2 separate regions of the Homo sapiens genome follow, and region 1 is linked to region 2. The links come from fine-mapping of genetic effects on gene expression. A gene starts in region 2. The other region holds a variant in brackets. All regions are shown on one strand. Distances are from middle to middle.

Region 1 (8,345 bases), 69 kb before region 2:
CGTATTTATATTTTTAAAGCACCTATACTCTGTACCATGTAAGTTATCACTTAGAGAAATTGTATTTTGAAACTGATTCAAGTTCAGTAATATTGACTATTTAATTAATTTGTGATCTCTTTGAGGACAGGGCTGATATTTTATTGTTTTAATATTCCCACAGTAATAATCATTGGATTTGGCAAAGAATAAGCAATCATCAATATTTACTGGTTAAAACAATTAACAGTAGTAGCAAAAGTTGTATTTTAGGATTTATTGTAAAATATAGAAATGCAATGTTGTTTATTGGCTGATAAATTGGTGTTCCATAGGCCTATCATTTAATTTAAAAAATTGAAAGACATGTTTACTTCTGTGCAATGATGAATTTAATTCCTTTTAAATTTTTTATTTTTATTGTAAGTTCTGGGGTACATGTGCAGGATGTGCATGTTTGTTACATAGGTAAACGTATGTCATGGTGGTTTGCTGCACCTATCAACCCATCATCACCTAGGTATTAAGCCCAGTATGCATTAGCTATTTTTCCTAACCTAATGCCCTCCCCGTGCCGACCCCACCCCCCAACAGGCCCCAGTGTGTGTTGTTCCCCTCCCTGTGTCCATGTGTTCTCATTGTTCAGCTCCCACTTATAAGTGAGAACATGCAGTGTTTGGTTTTCTGTTCCTGAGTTAGTTTGTTGAGGAAGTGGCTTTAAGCTCCATCCATGTCCCTGAAAAGGACATGATCTCATCCCTTTTTATGGCTGCATAGTATTCTATGGTGTACCACATTTTCTTTATCCAGTCTATCATTGACGGGCATTTGGGTTGACTATTCACAATTCCTATTTTCTTAACTTACACCTATGAGTAGCAAATATATAAATTCCATGTGCATTTAGATATATATTTATCATTATTATTAGAAAATGATGGTATATGCCACAAAGTTATTTGTATGGATGTCATTTTCTATCCCAGTCTGAAGGCTTTTTTCCATAATACATTTTTCTGCTTCTTTGTCTAGCATATCATCAAAACTATATTTTCCAGACAGTGTAATTTGACTACAGCAAATACTTTATGACTACATCTATACATGAACAGAAACAGTATCTCCCTTATTATTTATAACTTACCAGTTTTTTCCATATTATAGATTAATCTATATTGGTAAAGTGAACATGAATTAGCTTCCACACATGGGCTGGTTACCTTGATCTTCTGAACCTCATTAATTGCATTAGTTGTTTCCCAGTTTTCCAATGTTATAACCTATTTTCCAATTAAGAAACATTTTTAATATATGAAAAATATATATATCTTAAAAGCATCATAATTCAGCTATTCAATGCCACTTTATTGCTCTATTTTACTACAAATGACAAGTAACAGCCTTTTTGGCTTATCGTACAAATACTCAAAGTCATAATTTAATAATTGTCCATGACTGCTTTCACCTAAAACAGTATCTTACCTAGTAAAATTAATAATCAAATTGAGATCCTGCCTTCGAACATTTACTTTCTGTAAGAGGAACTGCAATCATAGCAAACCTGTACTTCCTGGAGGATTGTCGACTGGGATTTGATAACTTGTTCTTCATTCACTGCATCTCCTGTTTGTTGTTCAGTATAAACATTTCGATACTGGTACAGTCCAACATCAACAAATGCACTTAATCTGTACTCCTGCAGCAAGATTTCAATATAGTATCTGGAAAATAGAGTAACTAATGAATATAACTTTTTTCCAGAACACTTGCCATGAAATTATTTTAATGAATAAAATATCAATATTATCTTAAAAGCCTGCCTGTTAAATGACTTATATTGTAGTATCTCATATTTTAAATATTCAAATGTTAAAATTTTCACAGCATTTTGCCAAAATAAAATGAATTATGTAAGATATCTGCATTAGTAGAAAGTTGTTCTCATTCATAACCAATTCATTCAGCTTAGTCAATAAATATTTATAGAAGACAATACTATTTCTTATACTCAACATCTTGAAAAATAACCCTGTCCCTGGTATATAACACAGACAACATGCAGAGGTTAAATATTTTAATGTGTTCAAGAAAATGGCAGGCTTAGACATAGCATATATTTTATATCTGAGTAGTTATATTTGTCAGGAGTAGAAGTTCCTACTTTCACATTCCTTAAATTTGGCTCCATTTGTAACTTGGGGAATAAAACATTGCCTCAGGAAACTTTTACCGGTCAGATTTACTATGATCCTCCAATTAGCTGGATGGGATTTTCACTTTATATTTTGAATTCCTGATTCTTGATGTCTCCTGCCCCTCATCCTACTGTGTACCCAAGGTAGTGCCTTCACTGAGCAGCTGTTAACAAGAGAGTGCAAAACTACTACTTCTCCTCTAAATCTCTAGCAATGTCACCATTGCTCACATCTTTGGAGAGGACAGCTGGGAGCTTCCCTAAATTGTCTCACATCACTCAACATATATTCTTATATAGGAAGAATAAGTATCCACAGTTCATGAAAGAGTCTGAATGAGGGAAATTTATCATGTTTCATATGTGTAGAATGATAGGGTTCTGGATCATTGCCCAATGGAACTGATATTTGGGGATTATATCAGGCTCTTGACTTCCATAAGAACCTGCTCATCAGCTCTTCTGACTTGAGATGACCAACACTAATTAAAGAGCAGAATTCAAAGAAGAACCATTAAAATTTTGCATCCTTACTTGTGGCTTAAAACTATTAATTGGGCACTTTCTTTGTGCTAGACAATAAACTAAGCACTTTGCAGACATTATTACGTTTAATCTTCACAAAATTCTCATAAAATAGATATTATTCCTTTATCCATATGAATAACAAATGCTAAGGGAATTTTAAGGATTCAAAATTTTTTAAACTAGTAACTGAGGGAGAATTCCAAACAAAATAAGGTGACCAAAAAGATATGCACTAGGTGAAGCTATGTTTTTAATATTTGAGTAAAATGATTTAGCAATATGAGCTACCTTTGGAAAGACTTGAAGAGCCACTTTACAATAAACCAGCTAGAGTGGCCTCAATTTCAGATTTCATAGCCATCATTGTAAGCACAGTATGTAAATTCCAAGCTGGTTTTGCAGGAGCACAGATACCAGGCAGCAGATGTATTAGGAGTTGCTTTCATTCAAACTCTGTGCTCCTGCCTAGCTGGTAGACTGAACTCATTTTCCAAAACCAAGCCAAAGTCTGAAAATGTACTGACACTTAATTGCAGTAGGGATTAATCAAGAACTCCATTTATCTTGACCTGGCCCAGTAGTTTTCATGGTTATAGAAGAAAATGTTTAATGTCTAAAGAAGTGAAAGCAGAAGAAAGAGGATAAAAAAGGAATGAAACTCTTTCCCCATGTCAGTATTACTAAGACCTCAGCAAGAACATTGAGTGTGAGAACATTAATTTGCTCCCAGGTTCCATTGATCCCAACCCTCCTTGTCCAATTCCAAAAGATCCTCATGATGCTGCCTCTGAGCATAACTTCTTCAATATCTGAAAGGGTGATGTGGTAAACTTAAAAGAAAAAAGCACTCCTCCCATCAAGAAGGGAAGTCTATTTCTTCATCCTTGAGTCTAGGCTTGGCCACTTGCTTTG[G/T]GCAATGGGATATTAGCAAATATGACACAGACAGAGTATTGCAGAGTGTGTGTGCATTAGGACTCCCCTCTTTACTGCACCTATCAACCCATCATCACCTAGGTATTAAGCCCAGTATGCATTAGCTATCCACAATGTGACAAACCGGGGCTAGTCTCCTGGATGATGAGAGACCATGTGCAATGGGATGCCCCAAATATCTAAGACTCAACCATGCCTGCTGAGGCTCTAGACATGGAGTGAGGCATTCTAGGTTACCAGTCCCCAAATAAACCAGCCAGGACTAAAAGAACCGCTCAGCCAACTATAAAATTGTGCAAAATAATTCACACTTGTTTGATGTTGCTACAGTCTGAGGTGCTTTGTTATATAGTAAAGTCTAGCAGATGCAAATGCATCTTTTGATGTTCTTCATGTAACTCCATTCCACCACCTTCTCCATTTTCAATGTATCATGTCTTTTATCTTCCTGTTTCCTAGGAATTCTGAATGGCTTTTTGAATGGGATTATCTGGTATTTGGATGATAATCCCACTCATTGGCTCCTTGGACTTGACCTTTCAACACTAAATGAATGCTCTTTCAGTTCTGGCAGTGTATTTTAATATTCTTAAATTTCCAGTACCTGGCCCAGGGCCTGGAATAAACCAGTTAATAACAAATACATATTAAAAGTGGCAACAATCTATGTGGCTTAGTGATTTTTCCCTAGCAATACTGAAGAGCTCAGCTGCAGGAACAGAGAAATTAAATGGGTGGATTGACTGAAAGGTCCAAGTAAAGAACTAAGAACAGGATCAAGTACATTTCACAAAAGTATAATTTTGCAACAGGGTTAATCTAGACTTCAAATTTCCCTGGTTAGTTGAATGCCAGTATTCTTGAAAATCAAGAAACACATTTGAATAAAATTATAGAGAATGACCAATTATAAATTAAACCAATAAACTAATATCACTTCCACCAATAAAAATAAATTGAAAATATTTTAAAATATAAACTTAAAGCTTATAAATACCACACAGTAATTTAATGACAGGAAAAAGCCTTACTCTTTTCCTTTCTGCAGATGAATATCATCTGATCTTTGTGTTGGACTGGAAAAATAACTGTTGGCATTAGCAGAATGATATGCAATCCTCACCTAATCCGAGAGAGACAGAGACAGAGAAAAGGGAGAATTTATTAATAGACCTTTTCAACATTTATTTATTTATCATTTATTATTTCAGTTTTAGAAGTTTCATAAGTAGAAAAATGTAAAACTACTTTATATTTTTCTTTTAAGATCTGTTATCTACTATGCTATAAATTTTTTTTAAATTATCAAAGTTCACTTCATTCCTTCTACCATTCACTAACATCAACACTACTGTACTAAGTATACTACGCAGATCATAGCTTTTCCATAATTAGAACTGCAGTGGAAACTAAGAAGATACTTACCAGGAAAAAGGTAGTTATTGACAAATAAAATATTCTTTTGCTCTGTGGAGAACTTTGAGAGATTTAATCCAAATTAGATTGCCAAAGATTGCTAAATGGTTCTGCACACTAGAGTGAGAGGACTTTGGGCTTCCCATTAGGAATGATTATACCACCTTTGGAGTACACATGCTTTGGAGTACAAACTATGATAAAAATTAGAATTCATAAATTACAGATAGCAATTTAAACTTACACAACCAGTTTGGGAAGCAATCTTGCCACATAAGTTGAGTCATAAAATGTTACTTTGATTTGATCTGTTAGTTTCATATTTGTGAAACTGTCCTAACAAAGTAACCCCAAATACAGAAAAGTCTAATGATCATAGATGTTCAATAGAGTATTATTTGTGGTCATAAAACACCAGAAGTAAATAAAAACTTATCAGTAGGGAGATGGTTATCTAAGCTTGGTAAACCCAAGTAATAACACTGCTTAGTCATTAAAACTAGTGATTACATAAATTATTTAATAAAATTAGTATTTAATACTAATATGTGAAAAACTACATATGAAATTAAATGTATAATTCTATTTATAAAAAATAGAGAGATGAATTTTATCTCATAACCAAGTTAATGTAGAATAATGAAATATTTTCAGGTACGGGAAATTTTCTTGTAGGCTATAGGTTTTCTATCATCTTATATCTTGTATCATATCCAGGATAATAGCCAAGAGCCAAACCACATGACATCATTTCTCATACATTTTAAAAATGTTCATTCGTTTTGATTTAGAGTAAGATACATATAAATATCACCATAATGTTTTTACAGTATCAAATAGTATTCTGAGGCTTCCCTACCTTATCTTCTGGAAGTCCAGTCTGGCTAAAATAAATAGCATAACGGTCATCACCCTTGATGTAGAATCTATAAACATCAGAATCTGGAGCCACCAAAAATCCACTAAAGCGTGCAACAAATGTGTCTTGTTCCATGAGCCAAATATAGGAAGCTGAATCTACCCAACTGGCACCCATGTACCCAGGCGTTTTTTCATTGTATTCCAGTATCTCTTCCAAACGTATTGGACGGCTATTATTCCACACCTCAAGCTTCAGGCCTCTCCCTCCTAAGTGTAATGAAATAAAATAAGACTTTCATCAGGATCATAATGCAATGCCTCAATGGCTTTCTATTTGGATGTTGGTTATAGATTTTGTATATCAATTCATATTTTTAGTATGTGTGCAGACAAAACAATTACACATTCCCCTACACGTATCTGCAGCCAGAGGGCAGTCTGTAATTTGTTCATTATTACTTCACTTATTTGAGCCTCAGTTTCCACATATGTAAAATGGGAGTAATAATAATATTTGCATGGGTGCTATAGGGATTATGTATAATACACATGTAAAACAGCTGGCATTTAAAAAGTGCTTTATGTAAGATAATATATAGTAATTATTATGATATAACTGATGTTGCGAAACTTCAAGATTCATGCCATTTTATTACAAAACCTTTGCCTTGACTATTCTAACAAAAGTAAATTAATGGCTTACAAAGCCATTAATCAGAGAAGAGAAATTGTTGGCTTTCAGATTTCTCTCAATGTTTGTTTTACTTTTTAAAAAAAACATTACTTCTACTCTAGGATTTCTTCTCCTTCTTGGACAGAATCAAAAACAGGATACTCTCAATAAACTGTACCTATACTTGCCAGAATAAACCCTGTGATTAAATTTTTTCCTAATCAGAAAAGAGCCATCTCTCTTTTTTTTTTCCTTCAACTGCAACAACAATTAGGCTTACTTCTTCCTTTAGCAGCCTTAAGCTTTTCTGTATGTGGAAAATAATGGCTACCCTTCTTCAGCTGAATTTGGTTGAAGATAAGCTTTGAGCACTTCAAACTTTCACAGAAGCAGTGTCTAGTGATATACACAATTTTCTTTAAAGTCATCAATTATAAATTATCAAAATTATTTTCTTAAACTGTTCATTTTTTTCTAATATTCAAACCAAACAAATTTAAGAGGTTCATAAACGATTCATTTGGCTTCAAATGTGAAACAATGACACGATTATAAACAACATTCACGGTGCGAACAAGATATGAGATACACACCACACGCAGACACATGTACAGCATTTCAATGATATTAGTGTAGATAGGAAAGCAATTTCACTGAGCCACAAGGTGTAAGTCTGAAAAGAATTTAGAGTAACATTTCTCTCATCTCCTGTTTTCACTCCCACATTATTCTAGACAAGTGAATATTTAACTTCCCCTATTTATCTTTTTTTAATCAGAAAAAGGCATTTAAAAAATTTCTATGTAGACTATACCAAGTTTTAGTTATCATAATTTAATTAGAAATAAAAGCATAATTAAACTCTGTCAGTAGAGATGTGCTATTTTCAGTAGGGTGTCTTGATAATTTAGGCTGGGTTTTTCTCCATAGGTACAGCTTTGTGGCAGCTATTTTAATAGAAATATTTTCTAATCCAGAAAATGTAAATTTTAAAACTTGGAGGAAATTTCTTACAATTCTTACTACAAATTCTAAATTCTAAAAATTTAAATAATATTTTTTACTAATATATTCTTTTTATGTGAATATAGAAATGGCCATTGTCCCTTATGGTAACTTACCTGGATATACAGTTTTGAGAATATGAGGTTTGGGGGGTGTCTTGCAACATATACTATTTTCTGTGACATTCAAAATATCACAAGGTTCACCTATAGAGAAGCAAGATACAAAACCGTTACTACTGAAACTTCAGAATGCAAATCACATCAGTGTATCTTTAAGCACTTTTGCAATTAAAACAAAGTTGCATAAACAAGAGGCAAAATTAGGGCTCTTTATTTCCTTTACATATTCTCTATTAAAGCTTTTCACATAATAATTGTCATACTTCCAAAAAGCAACATTTTTTTCTGGTGGAAAATCACAAGACTGAGATAGAAAATTTCATAATTTCTGAGATAAAAAATTTGATAATACTATGTCTTTGCACAAAATGTTACTTCTGAATTCAAAGTAAAAACTTATATTTTGTTCCTTGGAGAGAAGTTGCTGAATAAACCCATGTCATTCAGAATTTGCAAAGGTAGATGACCCTAGACCTCTTCAGTAGAAAAAAGTGCTGGCTTAGTCCAAGTTCTTCAAATGAAAAAAAAAGGGGGATAATAATTGTTAAATGGCATTTTCACAGACAGACTGAAACCAAAACAGGAAAAAAGGCTAAAAGATAGCTATTGTAACTTTTACATAAGCACAATTAGA
Region 2 (8,322 bases):
CAATCCGTACTCCTTACCAGCAGTACTATCCTCTAAAGCTACCCAAGGCAGTTATCGATGCCTCCTTCCTCATTTTGAGGGTTGCTGTTTCTACATTTTATTAAAATTCTAAGGTCTCCTTCCAATTTTTGGAGTTTTCCATTTTCAACCCTATATAATCTTCTACCTCATTTTTCTGCCATCTATCTTGTCCCCTTCAAGTCCAAGCTCCACACCAACAGAGTAAGATTCCTAAAGTGTAAATGTGATCTAGTCATTTCCTTTCTTAAAACTTTAAATGACTCCCATCATCCAAAAATAAAGTCAGCAACAGATGCACCTCTTTTTCTTATTGTGTGAGATCTTACATGATCACCTGAATGCCCGGGTTGAGTTGAAAGATTCCCCCTCTTCCTTATACATATTTGCCTCTTCCTTATACATATTTGTCTTACTCACTTTATAACCCTGCCTCTGGGAGCCTTTCTTGATTCCTCAGCCCCTTCTTTGTACTTCTAAACCTGTTGATTCTGCAAATATTTACGTGGCCAATTATGAACCAAACAAAGCATTAGATGCTGGGTATACAATGTTGTTTTTGGTGTTAAAGAACTTAGATTATACTGGAGGATACAAACTAGCCAAGTAGATTGTTAGAACACAATGTTGATTAAATGCTATGATGGAACAAGGTATTTGGGACTTAAAAACATTCCTTGAAGAGACAATATATAAATTAGACCTGATAGTTGAGCTAGAATTAGCTAAAAAGGAAGAGAAGGAAGAATGTTTTAGAGAGTGGAAACAGCACTTGCTGCTCCAAGGTTGAGAGCTTGGTAAATGAAGCTGGTTCCACAACATTGTCTCCCTGTTAAAACCCAGGTAACATTATGTCTCCAGTTGTAATTCAGGTATGTACTTTTTCTTCTCCATCAAATTACTCTTTAAGAGCCATATCTTGCTCATCTTTCTACATCACCACTTCCCTCCAAGTCCTGCAATACTTAACAAACCTAAATTATTTTTTCCAGATGTTCGGAATAGAAACTTTTATAATCTCAATTGTAATTCTTTCCAGTGACATGTTTCATTTCTTGTTTAGATTCTTACAAGCTAACTATTAAAGGCGGTGAAATGTAATTTATTAACACAATCTATTACTTACCGTTCTCTTTCTCCAGTTTCTATCAACTTTTGGTTAATCGCTGCTCTCATCTGCGCATCTTTGTTCATCTTGCTAACCTGGACATCAACATGTACTTTCAGATATAGAACATTTACAAAGCATTTTCTGCTAAATCCTCTAGGCAGGCATCCTAACATGTTTACCATTCTATTAACTGAAGGGGTGATACATTTCAAGTGTGTTAATAATATCATTACTCTTTATTAAACACTTATGTGCTTGGCACTGGGCTAATGCAGTGTGGGTTTGCTTTTTTTTAAACATCACATTTAATTCCCAGAACGTATTGTTACATATTTATATTAATAAAATAATCTGTATTTTACTGATGAGGAAACTGAGGCACAGAGATAGAAAGTGGAAAGGCAAAATTTGAACTCAAGTACTTTGACCCTAGGAGCTCCAAAACTGAACATAACTGCCGATCACTTCTGCAGAGACTGCATCCAAAAATTGGGAGAAGTCATACATACTAAACATCAAAAAAAGATTAAATACTATTAGTAAAAAAATAAAATTACCAGGCCGGGCACAGTGGGTCACACCTGTAATCCCAGCACTTTGGGAGGCCCAGGCAGGTGGATCACGAGGTCAGGAGTTCAAGACCAGCCTGACCAAGATGGTGAAACCCCGTCTCTACTAAAAATAGAAAAATAAGCTGGGCTTGGTGGCAGGTGTCTGTAATCCCAGCTACTCAGGAGGCTGAGGCAGGAGAATCGCTTGAACCCAGGAGACAGAGGTTGCAGTGAGCCGACATTGCGCTGCTGCACTCCAGCCTGGGTGACAGGGCAAGACTCTGTCTCAAAAAAAAAAAAAAAAATTAATTAATCAAAAAAAATAAAATTACTAGATAAGGCTCTAAGTGTTTTGCTTTACTCTTCACTAGGATGAACCCACAATTACAACTGCTAAACCTAAGTGTGTGGATGTGTGTGTTTACACACACACTGCTGGTGGGATAAGAAGAAAACAAATCTCAAACTAATTCCTAACTTACAAAGTCCTCAATTGTCAGTAAAAACAGACAACCCAAACCAAAATGATGTTGAAAGAAGAGGAAAGTTAGGTTTTGAAAGCGTTAAAGCCACTTAAAAGTTTAAATTAAATAAAACTTGGCGTAAACTAACGTTTTCCCACCTAATCTGTCACTAACTTGAGATTACTTTTGTTGTCTTCCATCTGGCCTATTGAAAATTCAGACTGGCAATGAGTTACCAGAGTTGATTTTTTTTTTCTTTTTTGAGAGGAACAGGGAAAAGGAGAAGTTGAGTGAGAACTAGGAAATGCTTGCTTTTGTAATTGGAGGCTAACATTTTCAAAATAACTACAAGGTCTAGTCAGTACCACTCCTGGAATATTGAACTTGATCTCGTCTTGGCTCCTAAAATACGGATAGTGACCTTGGACAAGTCACTTAATTCTTAAAGGCCTCAGTTTTCTCACTGGTAAAACAAGGGCGCTAGGGTATCCCTCCCAGTTCAGACATTCTTAGGGAAAATAGAACAGGGCGGAGACAGCGGGAGAGGCGGGAGAGGAGGAGCCAGAAAACAAAGCGAGGACTGGTTTCAGGCCAACTCCGGTAGCACGCCCTGTCGGAGAGCCCTACAGGCCCGCGAGCGCGGGTCGGGGACGCTAACGAAAGACAGTACATCGAAAGGAGCCTGGGCTGGGCCCGGGTCCCGGCCCTGAGGACCACGGGCATAGCTCACCACCATCACCGCGGGCGAGGGCCGTCCCTTCCCAGCGACGAAATGACCCTTGCGCTGAGGACCGTTACCTACCACACTCTTCGGCTGCCCGGACTTAGACCCTCAGTAGCTCGGGCACCTAAGCACACAGAAAGCTAGAACACGCATTTCCGGGGCGGGGTCTCGCCACCCTGCCTATAATGTGAGAATTTAACCAGCGCGGGCCGCCTCCTGGTTGCTAGGGCCTCTGGGTAACAGAGTTCAGACCTTGCCGTCGCGCGCGCGTTAAGTACCAGGAGAACTACATAGCCCAGCATGCAACAGTCTCAACTTTTTCACGGACACTACATTTCCCAGAAGGCAGTTCGCACCGCAGTGTTTTCTGGGATGGGAACCACGCCGCTTCCCAGTCTCTGTGCGAGGCGTGAAGCGCGGACCTTTCAACAAGGGCTTTATTAATTCTCACGCTGCGGCCCTGGAAAGCGATGGAGGTGGCGGCTAATTGCTCCCTACGGGTGAAGAGACCTCTGTTGGATCCCCGCTTCGAGGGTTACAAGCTCTCTCTTGAGCCGCTGCCTTGTTACCAGCTGGAGCTTGACGCAGGTGGGAAGCGGCGGCGCCCTTCGTACTCCGTTCCTTTCCCCTTTCGGCTGCCTCCGGCCTGACCCTTCCCGCAATTTCTTTCTTTCTGACTGGCAAGCGAAGCCACCGTGGCGGCTTGCGTGGACTCACGGAGGCCGCTGCTTCTGGGGAATGATGCCCATCCCAGAACCCGGTGGGAGCCGCCTTCGCGCGCTCTTCGGTAACGGGACCCTGGGCCCCCTCCGTCAGCAGCCCAGCCTCTGAGGTCTGAGGTCTGAGGGCTGGCGTGCGGGTAGTGCCTGGGGCTCTGGCTGCTGTGTGTCCACAGCCTGGCTTCTGTTTCGGGGGACGCTGAGAACATTCCTTCCTCCTGGAGCATCGCTTGTGAACGTGTGCGTTGAGAAACCACACCTCCTTGGAGGACCCCCAGTTCCTGTTTCCTCTGACCGAGAGCCGTTTCTTAGAAGAGAAACTACATTCCAGTCATAGCATTTTTAATTACTCAGTTCCTGGCACATTAAGAACTCTGGTAGAGAACATCTCTAGAAGATAGTGAGGAAAAGTGGATTTACTCCCACACTGCTACTCCTTGCTTTATCTGTAGCTGGTAGAATATCCTTACTCTTGTTTTTACAACTTAACGGCATTTTCGTTATGATAGAGCCCAGAGATCTGCATTTTAAAATTCACACCCCTGCTGATTCTGATGCATGTTTTCAGAGATCACACTTTGAGAAATAGTGATCTACAGTTAATTATAATAACAGACATTAAAGTATAAAATAAGTTTATGCTAATTGATTTATTAAATTCAGAAATATTTACCGAGTACCTGTTTTGTGTTACGTCCTGATAATATCAAAATGAACAAGACACCTTCCGTAACAAAAGAGGACTATTAGCTAGTTAGGAAGAAAATTGTAAACAGATAATTGTAAAACAATATGGGAAGGCAGTGATAGGGATATGTACAAAATACAATGGTAGTACTTGAATATCTTTCCTAAACTAGTCTGGGGATCTGGGAAGGCGTCTTGGAGGAGTTAATATCTAAGTTGAGCTTTGAAGGGTAGGTTAAGAGTTGACTAGGATGAGAGAGGATAAGCTTGATTTTTCTTTTTATTTTTTTCCTTTTCCTCTTTGCCACCGTGTTTCTTCCAGTCACCCCATGTCAGTAGATGGTATCACCATGTTTAGTTAGTGCATTAGAAAGTGAAGCCAAAATTCAGTGTCTCAAAACAAGAAGCAGTTATTATTGCTCACAAGTCTACGGGTCAGCTGAGTGGTTCTTCTAGTCCTAGTTGGGCTCATTGATGCATCCTTGTTCAGTAATGGATCTGCTGGGAAGCTCTGCTCATTTGGCTGGACTTCCTCATATGTTTGGAGGGTGGGGGTAGGGTCTCAGACTATAAGCTTGTTTAAGATTCTTTCACATGGTCTCCTCTTGACTTTTCTCCGTGTGGTCTCTTATCCTTTAGCCGACTAGACTAGCCCAGGTTGGTACCAAGAGACACTTGTGCCAGAGTCATTTGGGGTTTATTTCTTTTAGCCACTGTCTGCTTGGTAGCAAGTCCGGTCAGCTCCACATTTTGATATCTCTAGGCCTCCACCCTAATCCAAATCAGAGTTATCTCTTACCTGAACTCTAGTAGCCTCCTGACTAGCCTTCCTGCCTTCACTTTTGGGCTTCGTCATTGCATTCTCCATAAGACGTACTTATCGGCCTTTTAAATTCTATCTTGATTTGTTGTCTGTTTCCTCCACTAGACTATGAGTTCCTTGAAAACAGTGATGTTTTTCTTTTGTTCACTACCCTATATCTAGTGCTTGGCACATAGGATGTATTCAATAAAATGAGTATATGAAGAAGAGAAGAAATTGTTGAGGTCATTCCATTCATGGGAAAGCATGAGGAAAGGGAAATAATTAGTAGGTTGTATGCTGGACATCCTTGCACTCTTATATTGCTGGAGCAAAACGTCTGGGAAAGTGAGAGGAAATAAATCAGTGAGGGCCTTGTTTGCCTTTTGGATTTCTTGGATTTCCGGTCATTCAGTGTTTCCCTGACATTTTTGTATTGAGCCATTACAATATAAAATAAAACTCAGCTGCTGTAGTTCTGCCAACTTTTCTGTTTACTAGGTGGAGATGTTTCTTAAAAACTATCATTTACTCATCTATCTTTTCATAAACAAAAGGATATTTTAACACCAAAAAAGCAGGAAGCAAAATCTCACAATAAACAATCCATTGAATACTTTAACTTTAGAAAAAATTCACAAAGTTGTCCTTGTTCCGTACTCATTTCATCAGCGTTAATCTTAGATTCTGTGTTTGGGATGTACAGCTGCAGGATATCAGGTGCCATTTGAAGATTTTTTTTTTTTTTTTTTTTTTTGAGTCTGAGTCTTGCTCTATTGCGGAGGCTGGACTGTAGTAGTGTGATCTCGTCTCATTGCAACCTCTGCCTTCCGGGTTCAGGCGATTCTCCTGCCTCAGCCTCCCGAGTAGTTGGGATTACAGGCGCCCGCCACCATGCCCAGCTAATTTTTGTTTGTTTCTTTTTGTTTTTGTTTTGTTTTTTGAGACGGAGTCTCTGTCGTTGAGGCTGGAGTGCAGTGGCGCGATCTCAGCTCACTGCAACTTCCGCCTCCCGGGTTCAAGCAGTTCTCTGCCCCAGCCTCTGGAGTAGCTGGGATTACAAGTGCCCGCCACCAAGCCCAGCTAATTTTTGTATTAGAGACGGAGTTTTACTATCTTGGCCAAGCTGGTCTTGAACTCCTGACCTCGCGATCCACCTGCCTCGGCCTCCCAAAGTGCTGGGATTAACAGGCCTGAGCCACTGCTCCGACCGATTTTTTTTTTTCTTTGAAGTTCCGGGGTACATGTGCAGGATGTGCAGGTTTGGTACATAGGTAAACGTGTGCCATGGTGGTTTGCTGCACCCGTCAACCCATCACCTAGGTATTAAGCCCAGCATGCATTAGCAATTTTTCCTAATGCTCTCCCTCCCCCTACCCCATTCTCTGACAGACCACAGTGTGTGTTGTTCCCCTCCCTGTGTCCATGTGATCTCATTATTCAGCTCCCACTTACAAGTGAGAACATGTGGTGTTTTGTGTTCTGTTCCTTCGTTGGTTTGTTGAGGACAGTGGCTTCCAGCTCCTTCCATGTCCCTTTGAAGGATATGATTGTGTTCCTTTTTATGGCTGCATAGTATTCCATGGCGTATGTGTACCACATTTTAAGTACAAGGGACGTGAACAGATACGGGAGTTGAAAAGCTTACCTCAGACTCTGTGGAGGTTGAGTTTGGAAGATGAGATGACTGCACACAGCAGATAGGAGGCTTTTGCAATAGTTCACATGATGAGTTTTTCATTAGGAATTACTTGAGGATGATGAAAAAGATTATTTTGTTTAAAAACTATCATTTCTAGAGATAGTGAAGCATAATTGAGGCGCTTCTGGTAATTTGATTTCTTTTATTCTAACTGAAGGAGTTCACTTTAGTTCCACAAACCTTTGATGGGCACCTTGGCTACCTGAAACACTGCATTTAAGATGTAAAGATGATGTGGTCTCTGGTGTCAAGAACTTGATGCAATGAGGCTTATTCTCTTGTCTTAAATAATGTTATTAAGTTGTACCAAAATTTCCTTTGCTACATAAGCAGTAAATGTCACTTTGTCTTTTTCTATTCCAAAGAACGAAACAAAAAACTTATTTTTAATCAAATTGTAATTGTCTTTTGATCCGGCAATTTCCTTCCTAGGCATTTATAAATATCCTTTTCCTAGAATCTTCATTTAGTACAAGTCTTTTTATATGTTTTTATATGTTTCCCAGCTATATTTCACCTAGCTAATTCATACTTCATTCTTTCATGTTGGCTTACATGTTACTTCCTCAGGGATTCCTTTCTTGACTAGTCAGAATCTACACTATAGAATCTGTATTATGCGTTGCCATAGTAACCAGTACTTCATAGACTTTATCATACTTCGTAGCATCCAGTATGTTTTCTTTGCTAAGATTATTGATTTTGTATTGAAGGGTCCCATGTCCATCGTTTTCAATGCTTTATCTCCAGGGTTGGAGCATGCCTGGTAAGTAGGACATAAATTTGTCTCACAAATTAAACAGCTTTATGAAGACATAATTGACAATAAACTACAAATTTAAAATGTACAACTTAAGAAGTTGTGATATATGTATACACCCGTGAAATCATCACCACAATCAAGATACTAAACTTAGCTATCATTCCCAAAGTTTCCTTGTACCCTTCTGTAACCATCTCTCTGCTCCTTCTGCATTCTAGGTTGACAGTTTTTTCTTTCAATGCTTTAAAGTTATAGCCTCAGTCTTGCTTATATTGTTTCTGATGAGAAATCTCACATTATCCTATCTTTGTTGCTCTATACATAACATGCCTTTTTTCTTCTGTTTTAAGATTTTTCTCTTTTACATTGGTTTTGAGCAGTTTGATAATATTGTGGCCAGCTGTGGTTTTCTTTATGATTCTTATGTTTGGGGTTTGTTGGGCTATAAACTGCGGACATATAGTTTTTATCAAGATCAATGGCAATATTTTGGCTATTATTTCTTCCAACTTTTTCCCCTCCTTTTCTCCTTTGAAGACTCCAGTTACACATTTTTAGATCACAGAAGTTGGTCTCAGCTCATGAATGCCCGTTTCATTTTTTCTTCATACTTTTTTCTGTTTTATTGCCAATAGTTTCCATTTTCATGCCTTTAGTTCCGTTTACTTTTTTTTTTTGTAATATTAGTCTCTTGTTAATCCCATCTGGTGTATTTTTCATCTTGGACATTGTAATATTCACATCTAGAAGTTTGATTTAAATCTTTTGCATCTTTCTTGCT

What was found. PIP is the estimated chance that this variant, and not a neighbour inherited with it, causes the effect.
Region 1: its variant is fine-mapped to the expression of ENY2 in whole blood (INTERVAL, PIP 0.98).

Annotation. Positions count from the first base shown.
Region 1 is chr8:109,397,909-109,406,253 of GRCh38, reverse strand. PKHD1L1 (PKHD1 like 1) reads right to left here. Exons shown (of 78, transcript NM_177531.6): 12 at 7,706-7,795; 13 at 5,910-6,178; 14 at 4,666-4,757; 15 at 1,541-1,700; 16 at 1,124-1,259. Among named protein-coding and RNA genes, the nearest start is that of PKHD1L1, 40 kb to the right of the region's middle. The variant G/T (reference allele first, on the strand shown) is at 3,614.
Region 2 is chr8:109,329,027-109,337,348 of GRCh38, reverse strand. ENY2 (ENY2 transcription and export complex 2 subunit) reads right to left here and starts at 3,002. Exons shown (of 5, transcript NM_020189.6): 1 at 2,875-3,002; 2 at 1,145-1,221. The coding sequence starts at 2,880. It overlaps NUDCD1 (NudC domain containing 1), which reads left to right and starts at 3,262. Exons shown (of 10, transcript NM_032869.4): 1 at 3,262-3,456. The coding sequence starts at 3,339. RefSeq lists enhancers at 2,721-2,970, 2,236-3,158, 3,341-3,390, 3,521-3,570.